Homo sapiens: one gene and its partners. The protein of the gene in region 2 purifies or fractionates together with the protein of the main gene of each other region. This does not show direct contact. Each region holds a gene or a part of one and is shown on either strand. Other genes may lie near its edges.

Evidence for each region. Proteins that work in one complex are often made in the same cells at the same time.
Region 1: the proteins of TNFAIP6 (region 2) and C17orf75 purify together in Homo sapiens (affinity purification with mass spectrometry; one large-scale study listed by BioGRID and IntAct). This does not show direct contact.
Region 3: the proteins of TNFAIP6 (region 2) and LRP2 purify together in Homo sapiens (affinity purification with mass spectrometry; one large-scale study listed by BioGRID and IntAct). This does not show direct contact.
Region 4: the proteins of TNFAIP6 (region 2) and ETNPPL purify together in Homo sapiens (affinity purification with mass spectrometry; one large-scale study listed by BioGRID and IntAct). This does not show direct contact.

The regions. Positions count from the first base shown.
Region 1 is NC_000017.11:32,327,941-32,332,173, forward strand, and holds the end of C17orf75 (protein Njmu-R1), read right to left. Parts: intron 4,039-4,233; coding exon 3,823-4,038; 3' UTR 501-3,822; downstream 1-500. UniProt on the Homo sapiens protein: As component of the WDR11 complex acts together with TBC1D23 to facilitate the golgin-mediated capture of vesicles generated using AP-1. May have a role in spermatogenesis.
Region 2 is NC_000002.12:151,374,592-151,377,568, forward strand, and holds part of TNFAIP6 (tumor necrosis factor-inducible gene 6 protein precursor), read left to right. Parts: intron 1-2,977. UniProt on the Homo sapiens protein: Major regulator of extracellular matrix organization during tissue remodeling. Catalyzes the transfer of a heavy chain (HC) from inter-alpha-inhibitor (I-alpha-I) complex to hyaluronan.
Region 3 is NC_000002.12:169,240,535-169,244,034, forward strand, and holds part of LRP2 (low-density lipoprotein receptor-related protein 2 precursor), read right to left. Parts: intron 2,989-3,500; coding exon 2,869-2,988; intron 2,539-2,868; coding exon 2,422-2,538; intron 832-2,421; coding exon 454-831; intron 1-453. UniProt on the Homo sapiens protein: Multiligand endocytic receptor. Acts together with CUBN to mediate endocytosis of high-density lipoproteins. Mediates receptor-mediated uptake of polybasic drugs such as aprotinin, aminoglycosides and polymyxin B.
Region 4 is NC_000004.12:108,746,054-108,749,553, reverse strand, and holds part of ETNPPL (ethanolamine-phosphate phospho-lyase), read left to right. Parts: intron 1-90; coding exon 91-316; intron 317-1,394; coding exon 1,395-1,549; intron 1,550-2,702; coding exon 2,703-2,792; intron 2,793-3,024; coding exon 3,025-3,155; intron 3,156-3,500. UniProt on the Homo sapiens protein: Catalyzes the pyridoxal-phosphate-dependent breakdown of phosphoethanolamine, converting it to ammonia, inorganic phosphate and acetaldehyde.

The sequences.
Region 1 (4,233 bases), on a different chromosome or scaffold from region 2:
CACATCCAGCCACATTTAGGAACTTTAGCAATTAAGAGAACTGGACTGCCCTCTCAGACCTCCAAGTGGAAAGACTTCATTGAAGTCAGCAGGGTTTCCATTAAGTGAGAAGACACACTGTTAGGAAAGTGTGGTCCTAGTAACTGCATCTTATTTCCAAGAAGCCCGCAGGCTTTCCTGGCACCTGGTCTAAGGGATCCTCTGGTAGAGGACAGGCATTCTGTCATGGTGAATAATGAATGAGAGTGAAAGGAAGTAACTTGGGTTATTGAGTTCTATGAGTATAACTCTACTGGACAATGAATAAAACATTGTGAGGGAAATTGCTCTTAGATTCTGCTTGATGCCTCCTGCAAGAAGCAGAAAGGTGTGTATCCCAGCAAGTGATTTGATCTTCTTCAACAAATTCCTTAGTATAGCAAGTATAATTTCCTCACAACCTTGTTGGGAATACAAATGTTAGGCTTGAGGACTGAGCTCATTAAACAAAAACAACTGTCTTGATGAGAAGCTAAGTTTTATTATTATAATTACAAATTAATTACAGAGAAACTGAAGCCATTCTTCATACATGACAAACATACATTTCCTCTGTGTGTACAGCACACAAGTAATATACACAAATATATTCCATGTCTGAACAAATCCTTTTTAAAACTTTAAAAGCTGGCTGGGCACAGTGGCTCACGCCTGTAATCCCGGCACTTTGGGAGGCCAAGGCGGGTGGATCACAAGGTGAGAAGATCGAGACCATCCTGGCTAACACGGTGAAACCCCGTCTCTACTAAAAATACAAAAAATTAGCCATGCATGGTGGCACATGCCTGTAGTCCCAGCTACTGGGGAGGCTGAGGAAGGAGAATCACTTGAACCTGGGAGGCAGAGGTTGCAGTGAGCCAAGATTGCACCACCACACTCCAGCCTGGGTGACAGAGCGAGATTCTGTCTTAAAAAATAAAACAAAAACAAAAAAAAAAACAACTTTAAAAGCCAAGATAGTAGCTTATTAAAATTTGAATACAGTACATGTTTCTAGTCATGAACTCTGTGGTTTCTTCTCATGACCAAGATATTCAGTTCCATGACACCATTTTCCTTGTCTACAGTAGTGATACAGAGTTTGTCAGACTTTTTTTTTTTTTTTGAGACGGAGTCTCGCTCTGTCGCCCAGGCTTGAGTGCAGTGGTGTGATCTCGACTCACTGCAAGCTCCGCCTCCCGGGTTCACGCCATTCTCCTGCCTCAGCCTCCCGAGTAGCTGGAACTACAGACGCCTGCCACCACGCCCGGCTAATTTTTTGTACTTTTAGTAGAGACGGGGTTTCACCGTGTTAGCCAGGATGGTCTCGATCTCCTGACCTCATGATCTGCCCGCCTAGGCCTCCCAAAGTGCTGGGATTACAGGCATGAGCCACCACACCCAGCCCAGACTTACTTTTTTTAAAATAAGACTACCAGAGGCCGGGTGCAGTGGCTCAGTTTGGGAGGCCAAGGTGGGAGGATTGCTTGAGTCCAAGAGTTTAAGACCAGTCTGAGCAACATAGTGAGACCCCATTTCATTAAAAAAAAAAAAAGATAAAATAAGACTATCATATAGAGCTGTGTAATGTAGTGAGCCTACATTACAAAAATATATACAACCACACAGAGAATATGTAATTACACCTTGCCTATATCCATAAATGATTTGAAGCAGGTAACACATTTGCTTTTAAATGCCATTTACAACATAGACTCTTGAATGACATGAATTTGAAAATGAAGTATTTTTTCAGACTTAAAACGTTGATGTGCTAATGTAGCTTACTTTAAAAAATGATTTCCAAGTGGGGAACCAACTACATTGGGAAAAGACAGTCAGATTCAAGGACAGTGTCATAAAATTGCTGGTTTTCCTTAGTCACCCTGACTTTATTTTTTTGAGACAGAGTCTCGCTCTGTCACTCAGGTTGGAATGCAGTGGCGCGATCTCGGCTCACCGCAATCTCTGCCTCCCGGGTTCAAGCGATTCTCCTGCCTCAGCCTCCCAAGTAGCTGGGACTACAGGCACATGCCACAGTTCCCAGCTAATTTTTGTAATTTTAGTAGAGACAGGGTTTCACCATATTGGTCAGGCTGGTCTGGAACTCCTGACCTCAGGTGATCCACCTGCCTCGGCCTCTCAAAGTGCTGGGATTACAGGCATGAGCCATCGTGCCCAGCCACTCTCACTTTAATACTATGAAAAATGCTACTTAGATTTTTTTCTATACTGCCTACATTCCAAGTTATTAAAGTTTAAAACCGTATGAAAGCATTTATGAAGATTCTGAATTGTATTTCTCATTAAAAGAAAAGAAATGTGAGTCATGTCCCGAGGCTTATGTAGAGGAGAAAGCAGAAGGCCATTGTCAGTCATTTTGAAAGTTAAAACTCAGCACTTAATGTGAATTTAGATCCATTTAAGAGAGGATTCCTCAGTTTTATGGGTTTGTGCTCCTCTGAGCATCCTCAGGGAAGTGAGAACACAAGACTTCTGTTCTTCTAAGCAAAAATCATTATCAAATGAATTTATTAAAGAGCTATCCCGAGCAAATTGCAATTGTATGTATGTAGCTACATAGGCTTCCATGGGAATTGTAAATGGCTAGCTGAGGGCACTTTCAATTGATTCAGAGTAAAACAATCTGAGGCTTGTAACAAATGTACAAAAAACTAAAATCAATGAGTAACTCTAATAGGAAGAAACTGTTTGCATTCCTTATGTTACAGTTTGCTTGTAAACTGTATGTACTTTGTTTCTTTTCTCAACACTGTTTTAAAACTCCAGCATTTTCACCTAAAAGAAAACACAGGCTCTTCATAAATACCTGTGAACAAATAAATGAAATGGTGACTGAAGGCGATTTCTGCAGTAGCTTTCTCTCAGAGATAATTATTTTTTTTTTTGAGACAGAGTCTCGCTCTGTCGCCCAGGCTGGAGTGCAGTGGCGCGATCTCGGCTCACTGCAAGCTCCACCTCCTGGGTTCACGCCACTCTCCTGCCTCAGCCTCCAGAGTAGCTGGGACTACAGGCGCCCGCCACCATGCCCGGCTAATTTTTTGTATTTTAGTAGAGACGGGCTTTCACTGTGTTAGCCAGGATGGTCTCGATCTCCTGACCTCATGATCTGCCCGCCTCAGCCTCCCAAAGTGCTGGGATTACAGGCTTGAGCCACTGCGCCCAGCTCAAAGATAATATTTTATCTTGAAGCTAGTGCATCGATTTGTAAAGCTCATTTAATTTTCTACATACTCAGGATTTGCATATTGACTTAAAATCTGACTTTATCATCCATGCCGTTATCAACTAGACAAAAAAATGTATCAAGCACCCACAGGATGCACAGATCTATCTCTGAACTGGTGTAGTGGTATTAATCTGTTCTAAGACTAGAATTACATTTTTTTTTTTAAGAAGCTACAGTCCACTGAAAAGGAAGTATTATGGTTTTTCTGAGAAGAAAAGTTGCTAAATACTGCAGCAAACTCAGGCTTTTCCTGAGAAAAGCCACAAACAAAATCATCTCTGAAATTTTTTAAGCAACAACTTCCTGAAGCGTGGAATTTATGGGGCCAGTGAGACACTAAAATTTCACAACTCTCACATACATTATCTATCTAGGACTCAGTGAAGATGTTCTTCAGATTTTTATTTAAGTTAAATTGGTAAAATACAAAAAGAAAATCTGGATTGAGTTTCAAATCATCTTAAATAGCAATCCTATGAACAATTATAACTGCAATTTCAAACACTAAGACTTAAATATACAACTTGATCATACAATTATCTCAAAACATATGATCAAAAACTTTGGTCAAGAGCTTCTTTCATGAATTCTTCAAGGACAGCTATCACATTTTTGGCTTCAGGCATTTCTTCATGTTCCACTTTAACAATCTTCAAAAGTATATCTCCACTACCACAGTTCTTTAGGAACATGTAACATTTAAACAAAGCATAATGATTCATTTCTGCCTGTCGGATAAATCTCTTCAAATTGTTTGTGTCTTGTATGGCCTAGAAAATGATTACCCAGTTAAAAATGTGTTAAGTGAAATAATAATGAAGCTCAAAAAATAACTCCTATCCAGCTGAGAACTCAACATATCTTCCTGAATTGTTTGCTTTTCATATTAAATATTTCCAAAATTTAAATTGCAGTATGCTTTGCCCTTGGTAGAAGAAGAAAATCTCCTTTTTTTTCTTGTTTCG
Region 2 (2,977 bases):
TCATAACTGTAACAGATGGAACTTCCTGCTCTGTTATCGAATGATTAATGCTTAAACCTTGTTAGTTCATTATTCTGTTACAAACTCCCTTAAGAAAGATAACCTATTAAATTAAACCGTTTACTTATCTCTCATTCCTTTCTTGAAAATATATTTTATATTAACAGAAAGTTGAAAGAAAACATCTTATTGCTGTAGGAGGTAGTTGGGGGATGAGAATCCTATTAAACAAAGAAGTTAAAAAGAAGCCTAGGCCAGGTGCCGTGGCTCACGTCTGTAATCCCAGCACTTTGGGAGGCCAAGGCAGGCCGATCACCTGAGGTCAGGAGTTCGAGACCAGCCTGACCAACATGGAGAAACACCGTCTCTACCAGAAATACAAAATTAGCCAGGCGTGGAGGCACATGCCTGTAATCCCAGCTACTTGGGAGGCTGAGGCAGGAGAATTGCTTGAACCCGGGAGGCAGAGGTTGTGGTGAGCCAAGATAGCGCCATTGCACTCCAGCCTGAGCAACAAGAGCAAAACTCCGTCTCAAAAAAAAAAAAAAAAAAAAAGTCTGAAATTTTACATTTTCCTTTTTTCTCTAAAGTAGACAACTTACTCCAAATGTAATCAAATCAGTGGTGGGGTTTTATTGGCACAACTTCAAGAAACTGGGAAAAAAAAAACCCACACAATTTATCATTCAAAGAGAAACAAATCAAGAAACAGAAAAGAATATAGTTAAAACAAAAAAGCCAAAGATTTAGCAAAAAATCAGGAAGAGGACATTGATACAAAGTAATAGAAAAAGAAGATATAAGATACAGTTAACATAAAATCCTATCAAGCATAGGCCTGGTGTGGTGGCTTACGCCTGTAATCCCAGCACATTGGGAGGATGAGGTGGGCGGATCACCAGGTCAAGAGATCGAGACCATCCTGGCTAACACGGTGAAACTCCGTCTCTACTAAAAATACAAAAAATTGGCCAGGTGCAGTGGCACACGCCTGTAGTCCCAGCCACTTGGGAGGCTGAGGCAGGAGAATCGCTTGAACCTGGGAGGCAGAGGTTGCAGTGAGCTGAGATTGTGCCACTGCACTCCAGCCTGGGTGACAGAGCAAGACCCCATCTCAAAAAAAAAAAAAATCCTATCAAGCATAATACTATTAACATTTTGATCTGGTTTTCTTTTTAAATATACGCTTACTCAACCCAGGGTATAGATTACAAAACAAAAATAGAAAATAAAGACATTGGCCAAGCATGGTAGCTCGTGCCTATAATCCTAGCACTTTGGGAGGCCAAGGTGAGAGGCGTGAGCCTCAGGAGTTTGGGACCAGCCTGGGCAACATGATGCAACCCTGTCTCTACAAAAAAATACAGAAGTCAGCCGGGCACAGTGGCTCATACCTGTAATTCTAGCATTTTGTGAGGCCAAGGCGGGTGGATCACTTAAGATCAGGAGTTCAAGACAGCCTGGCCAATATGGTGAAACCCCATCTTTACTAAAAACACAAAAAATTAGCCCGGTGTGGTGGCACGTGCCTGTAATCCCAGTTACTCAGGAGGCTGAGGCAGGAAAATCACTTGAACCTGAGAGGCAGAGGTTGTAGTTAGCTGAGATGGCTCCACTGCACGCTAGCCTGGGCAACAAAGTAAGATTCCCTTTCAAAAAAAATTTAAAAATACAAAGTTAGCCAGGCATCCTGATGCGTACCTGTAGTCCCAGCTACTCGGGAGGCTGAGGTAGGAGGATCACCTCAGTCCAGGGAGGTCAAGGCTGTAGTGAGCCATGATCATGCCACTGCTCTCCAGCCTGGGAGACAGAGTGATATTCTGTCTCAAAAAAAAAAAAAAAAAAGAAAGAAAGAACCTGAAATTGTCCATAATCCTACCACATTAATAAGAGATATAAAAGTAAGGATGTGCCTACTCTCCTCACCTCTCCATCCCAGAAAGGCATTTGATAACTCTGTAGTGACCATCCTTCCAGATGTTTTTCTATTATACAAACATTATATATGTGGAAACTATGGACATATTTCCATGTCAGAGTATGATATTTAGATCATTCAAATTCTTTTTCATGACTGCCTAATAGGTCACTGTATGGATATACTGTAATTTGTCATGTACTAATATTTAACATTCTGAGGCATTTGATTCTGATTTTTTTCTTTTGTTATTCAACGTTTCAATGAACATTTTAAAACCTCTGTCTTTACTCAGTAATTCTACTTTAAAAAAAAATAGATTCCTACAGTGCCAATTTACATTTCTTTTTCTTTTCTTTTTTTTTTTTTTTTTTTTGTTTTTTTTGAGACAGGGTCTTGTTCTGTCACCCAGGCTGGAGTGCAAGGGCGCCATCACAGCTCACTACAGCCTCAAACTCCTAGGCTCAAGTGATTTTCCCGCACAAGGCTAATTTTTATTTTTTATTTTTAGTAGAGATGGGGTTTTGCTATGTTGCCTAGGCTGGTCCTGAAGTCCTGAATTCAAGCTGTCCTCCTGCCTCAGCCTCCCAAAGTGCTGGGATTTCAGGCATAAACCACCTTGCCTGGCTGACTCCCAATTTACATTTTCTTTTCTTTTCTTTTCTTTTCTTTTTTTTTGAGAGTGAGTCTCGCTCTGTCGCCCAGGCTGGAGTGCAGTGGCAGGATCTCGGCTCACTGCAAGCTCCGCCTCCCGGGTTCACGCCATTCTCCTGCCTCAGCCTCCCAAGTAGCTGGGACTACAGGCACCCGCCACCACGCCTGGCTAATTTTTTGTATTTTTAGTAGAGACAGGGTTTCACTGTGTTAGCCAGGATGCTCTCAATCTTCTGACCTCATGATCCACCCGCCTCGGCCTCCCAAAGTGCTAGGATTACAGGCGTGAGCCACCGTGCCCGGCCATTTTTGTGTTTGTTTGTTTGTTTGTTTGTTTGTTTTTTAATAAGGCCTGTCGACTCATACCTAACCAATTTACATTTTAACCAGCTGAATATTCTCTGA
Region 3 (3,500 bases), about 18 Mb from region 2:
GATTAAAGAGGAAAGAAAGAAATGACAGTAATTAGGATTACATGCCAATCACAGCACTTTAATCACAGCAACACAAATCCCTGGACTTCATTTTTTTGTGATAAGTTCTGATTGAAATTAGAAAATATTAAAGTTAGAAAAATTAATGAGCACATTACCAACAGAACCAAATTTAATTTGACAATCTAATGGCCTCAATTTAGTCTCATTTTTTGAAACAAAGACATAAAAAGAAGTAAAAACACATAACCAAGTACAAAGGATTTAATCAGAAAATTATCCAATGGTGATGTATTTGAATTCAATTATGGTTACCCCCTACACAGATGTGAACTCATAGAGGAACTGAAATCCTTCCTACAAAGCTACACAGTGACTGTGACAATGGTGATGCACACCAGGCTACTGTTCAGAATGAGTTTATGGCCAGTAAACTGTGGTCAGGAAACTTACTGCAAAGTGGGGACTCATCTGTCCCATTGGGGCAGTCAAAGATGCCATCACACACTACACTCAGATTCACACAGATGTTATGGCCAAGACACTGCCATTGCCAACTAGGACAGCGAAAGGGCTGAGTAGGGCAGTCCTTCTCATCACTCATATCCCCGCAGTCATTGTCCCGATCACAGAGCCATGCCCTGTGGATGCAGTTTCCGTTGTCACAGTGGAAATATGATGAAGGGCAAGTCTTGGGGACACAGGCATTGTGCTCATCAGATCCATAGAGGCAGTCTGGATGCCCATCACATTCCCAGAAGTTCGGGATGCAGATACCATCTTCTTGGCACTGAAATTCATCTGAGTGGCACATACCAGGAGGCCTGGTTGCTAGAAGGAAAACATGGGGTAAATCGGCTTGTGAATGTAATTTGTGATCCCTTTTATAGTCTAGACTCAGAGGAAATGATTTTGGATCCAATAGTAGGTTTATAGTAACAACTATGACCAAATTAATATTTAAGGCTAAATGATATAGAGTCTTCTCCCACACTCTAGTACATAGAAATATTTCTTTGTGGCAGCTAGTGGCTCTGACAACAAACGAAGTACAGAACGCACAACTGCTGACTAGCAGATGAGTACCTGTGTCAAAAGAACATCCTGTTTCCTTTTCCTGTGTTTTTAATGTACTTCCAATTGCAGATTCAATAATAAAGTTTATCTATCTTTCTATGAAAGAATCACCAGAACATTACAATAGAGCTTAAATAGCTATGATTACTTTGAACTTCATGTGTTTCATATCATGTTTGGGTGTTATTATTTTCCCTCAGATGAACTATACCTAATGAAACCATCACACACTAACTAAAGATGATGGTAAATACTCAGTTCTTTGCAAACTTTCCACTATTCATCAAGCAATCCTGGAGAGATACGTAAGAACTGCTTCCCTATTTGACAAGGGTAAACCAAAACTCTCTACCAGGGATCTCACAAGGCAACAGCAAGCCAGCGGCAATTGACAGTTTAACCTCAGCTCATCACAGAATTTTATGTTTTTAATGTGAAACAGGAAAATTAGTGATTAGTAATTTCTAGATGTTGTGCAAACTATAAAGTATATAAGCATTTTATTTAACTTTTCTTTTTAATCCATGGCTTTACACACTACCTTTCTGACGCAGGAGGAGAATTCATGAAAACTTACTTTTTTGGTCTAAAACACCATTGTTCAAACAAATGATCAACTCACTGATGAGTTTTTGCAAGTCTAAAATCCATTTAAAACAAAAAGTGGGCAAATAACAAATCATGTGAGTATAGGTTTCCAGTCTGTGAAGATTATAGATCCATCAGAATTATACTGTATGAAGTCCTACTTGAATCCTCCAACTAGAAGAAATTTCTTTTCTCTGAACCTCCATAGAATTTTATCTGTGCCATTTCTAAGACCCTTGTAACTGTCTATCTTGCTTAATTGTCTCTTGCCTTCTATAATCTCCATAGATAACATCTTAGCAGATATTCAACACATAATAGCACAAAGAATGAATTCATCAGAGTCAATACTAAACACAGCTCCATACCATTTCTACACCATGATATGACTTCTCTACTGAAACTTAAAAGAAACCAGTAAAATATCTTTATATGGAGTAGAGCCTCAAAAGTTTAAACCTACTAAAGTGGGAAGTCCTAAGAAAAACTAAAAGTGAAAACAAAAATATCTAAGAAATATTTAGCCCATCTAAGAGACTATTTGAAGTGTCCATTTATACAACCACTTGATTTGTTAATTACACATTATATGGCAATGTCTACTCAATTTTACTGTATGTTCAATACCACATTCCTTTGAGGATACTTTCCCCCAGTTTGTCTGAGTTAGGGAAAATGTGTGGCAATATCAATATCAATACTGGCAAAAATGAAATGACCCCTTTGTCTGAAACATTCTGGGTATGTGTTACTTACGACAGCCTGCTTCATCCGAGTTGTCACTGCAATCAAAAACACCATCACAACGATTTGTGACGCCAATACATTTATCCCCACTGGCACACTTGAATTGAGAAGCAGTACAGTTTAATACTAAGAATGAAAGAGAAAAGCATTAGAAATTAGCTCAGGGCTAAAATGACTAAACACTGAGATTTTTCTTTTTTGTTGTTATACTTTAAGTTCTGGAGTACATATGCAGAACATGCAGGTTTGTTACATAGGTATACACGTGCCATGGTGGTTTGCTGCACCCATCAACCCATCATCTACATTAGGTATTTCTCCTAATGCCATCCCTTCTCTAGCTCCCCACCCCCCAACAGGCCCCGGTGTGTGATGTTCCCCTCCCTGTGTCCATGTGTTAACACTGAGATTTTTCTAAATAAACATTGTGAATAAAAAAGAAGGCAATGCACTTACCACAACCAACCTCATCAGATCCATCAACACAATCCTTGTCACCATCACAGACAAACGATAGGTCAATACATCGATGATTGGGGCAATTAAACTGACTAGGTTGGCATGTCTCTGTCGAATCTAATGTCATCCGAAAACAAAACCAACAAGTTTATTTCCTGTGCAACAAGTACCAGAGCCAAACTAAAAATGGCTAAATAGCTACAGAAGTTATCTCAATTGTACATGGGTTCAAAATTCTTTTGAATCAGCCACACTATCAAAGTCAGCTAAGCAAAAGAACTCAAAACTAGGATAGGTTTTAGAATTGAGAATAAAAAGATTACAGGGCAGAGTCAGAAACTGTGATTACACCTTGGAAAATAGACCACATTCAGAAAGTGAGCATCATGTGCTTGGACTTGGACTACATTTCATGAATACTATGAAGTCCATGACTCTAGACCAAAGCCAAGCAATGGAGCCCAATCAGGCAACAAAACCAGCATGACCCACATGCCTAGTAGCAACAGTGTGTAGACAGACCCCCAAAACTGGATTTAAAAGTCTGAACAGAACAATTCTAAAAACCAGGGTCCTACCTTACTGTTAAGACCATAGCCTTGGAGTCGGATGCAGTGGCTGGCCCCACC
Region 4 (3,500 bases), on a different chromosome or scaffold from region 2:
TTTTTTTTGTCTTCAATAATTTGCATCTTTGTGGGTGGGTTTGGGGATCTCAGTGACCTGAAGGCATTAGACTGCCGCTTTGCTTTTCAGATATGTACACGGTGCAGGGGGTGTGTTTATAGCTGATGAAGTTCAAGTGGGCTTTGGCAGAGTTGGGAAACATTTCTGGAGCTTCCAGATGTATGGTGAAGACTTTGTTCCAGACATCGTCACAATGGGAAAACCGATGGGCAACGGCCACCCGGTGGCATGTGTGGTAACAACCAAAGAAATTGCAGAAGCCTTCAGCAGCTCTGGGATGGAATATTTTAATACGGTACATTTTGGTCTCCAACTTTAATGCTAAGAAGGAAAAATAATGCATGTTCTTATATTTTTTGCCAATGTAGTAAAGAATAAAGCTCAGTATTGCCGGCTAACCACCCAGAACTCTGGCCAAAGTTTTTTCTTATTTTAATAAAACATCTTAAATACTTACATATATATATAAAATTATACTTTAAGTTCTGGGATACATGAGTAGAATGTGCAGGTTTGTTACATAGGTATACATGTGCCATGGTGGTTTGCTGCACCTATCAACCCGTCATCTAGATTTTAAGTCCCACATGCATTAGATATGGCCAAACTTTTATCTAACCAGATTTTATTCTGTCTGACAAAATGCTCCTTGTATTTCTGCTTGTGTATCTTTACCTGTCCTAAAACAGGCTTATTAATTTTTCCAATGATAGATGGTTGCCCTGCTAAATTCTACAGGTTATGATATTTTCATTTCTTTGTTTCATATCATACTTAAATTTCCAAAACACTTTTAAAGTATTTTTATGACTCAGTACTATAAATGTTATACAGCTGTCATAAGAGATACTAAATTTTTATCTTTGGGATATTATATTTTTTTGACTTATCCCCATAAGCTTTAAGCTTGGAAAAATTATTGTAGTTTGTTCAGTATATATAATACGACTTGTTACAGCTAAAAGTAAGATTCAAATCTGAGGACATAAATTGCTTGGGGAAAATGTCATTGCTTAGCTACTTTTACTCAGCTCTTCAAGGGCAGAAACCCCTATTTCCCTCACTGGGCAACACTATGAAATCCTGAACTCCCAACATAATGTCTGCTTTTGTTTGGATGAGCAAATAAAATCACTGGTAGTCCTTCATACCAGTTATGCAGCTTGGATAATATAATTTAGAATGAATTTTCACTCAGTCCTGAATATATAGAATCATGCTCTATTCTAAATATGAGAAACTAATATTATAAGAGAACATTTTATTTAAATTATATCTTCACTTATGTATGTATGAGCCAAATTTCTCATGGATGAGGGAATACCACTCATTCAACTGGTATATTTTCTCATTTGTCTTTTTTTTTTTTACAGTATGGAGGAAATCCAGTATCTTGTGCTGTTGGTTTGGCTGTCCTGGATATAATTGAAAATGAAGACCTTCAAGGAAATGCCAAGAGAGTAGGGAATTATCTCACTGAGTTACTGAAAAAACAGAAGGCTAAACACACTTTGATAGGAGATATTAGGTATGTTCATTATGAAGTTGTCATGTAGTTACTCATTTTTTTCAAAATAATAATAGTTTATAGGCTGGGCAACATGGTGAGACCCCGTCTCTATTAAAACTACAAAAAATTAGCCAGGTGTGGTGGCACACACAAATAGTCCCAGCTACTCGGGAGGCTGAGGCATGAGAATCACTTGAGCCTGGGAGGCAGAGGTTGCAGTGAGCCGAGATTGTGCCACTGCATTCCAGCCTGGGTGATAGGGTGAAATCCCGTCTCTAACAATAATAATAATAGTTTATATTTTATCTTGTAAGTTTATAATAAAGTACATAAAACTAAATCTGGAAAACACCAAAAAAGAGAGATAGCAAAAATTATTCTTATTCCAGAATCCAGATATCACCACTGTTAACATTTGGGTGGGGCCGGATGTGGTGGTTCACATCTGTAATCCCAGCACCTTGGGAGGCAGAGGCAGGAATATTGCTTGAGCCCAGGAGTTTGAGACCAGCCTGGGCAACATAACAAGAAACCTTGTTTCTATAAAATAAATAAATAAACCAACAACAATAAAAAAACATTTGGGTATATGTCTTTCCTGGCTTTTATACTTTTTTAATAAAGTTAGGATAATGTCAGCACCCAAAAGATGAAAAGAAGGAACTTAATGTAGCTCTAAATAATTTATTGAAAATTATTTAAAATGCTATTCTGAAAAGCTGGATATTTTTCATATATATGTATGAAATACTGACATATATATATATAATATATATATATATTATATATATATATATAATATATATATATATATTATATATATATATAATATATATATATATTATATATATATATATAATATATATATATATATTATATATATATATATATATATATAATGTTAACATTTATCATCATTAACATCCTGAGAAACTAAATAGCATGAAAGGGTTGTTTTTAAGCCATTTTCTTTTATAATTGAGAAAAGAAAACTGGATGACAAAAACTAATTTATTTCCAAAAGTAGAAACAACTGTGAACATAGATTGGTATCTTGATTTAGTTAGAATTAAACTTGGAAATTAAATGGAAGTTTGGTGATAGTGTTAACTTTTTGTGACAGTGAAGAGTTGGACAGATTGTGGGTCAAGTTTTTCTTCACCTCTCGCAGGGGCATTGGCCTTTTTATTGGAATTGATTTAGTGAAGGACCATCTGAAAAGGACCCCTGCCACAGCTGAAGCTCAGCACATCATCTACAAGTAATTCACCCCCACACCCACCTGTTTGGTATCTTGGCTGCAGGATGCCTACCCACTTGAAAGCTTGCTTGACTTCCTCCCATCCCTCTGAAAAAGGAAAGTTTAAATACATCCTATTTATAATGTGGGCTTCTTAAATGCAGAATACTTAAACTGCTCTATGTTCACATAATTCTTCAGTAATCGTAGTTATCCTTTGCATACACTCACATGTATTTCCTACACAAATTAGGATGAAAGAAAAACGAGTGCTTCTCAGTGCCGATGGACCTCATAGAAATGTACTTAAAATAAAACCACCTATGTGCTTCACTGAAGAAGATGCAAAGTTCATGGTGGACCAACTTGATAGGATTCTAACAGGTGGGTCCATGGATCTTTAAGATGTCTTCTTGTTCCCTCTCCCAAACCCACCCCTCAAACCCTGGTCTAGTCATAATGAGCATATGCATCTTGTTATTCATGATGGAAGTGAGGCAGGGCAGAAATAAATGTGTAACTTTCCATTTAGGACTAGAAAAAGATAGCTGAAAAGTAACTACATGGACTCTTAAATTGAAATTTTCAGTTTGTATTCATATAACTCCAAATATAAGTTTTTGCTGAAAGAACATAGTTTTGTCATTTATTTTTACTTTAGACTAGCATATTTAAAAGTGCATGTCTGCATTGTGCCATGGACCACAAATACTACAGTATATAGTATTT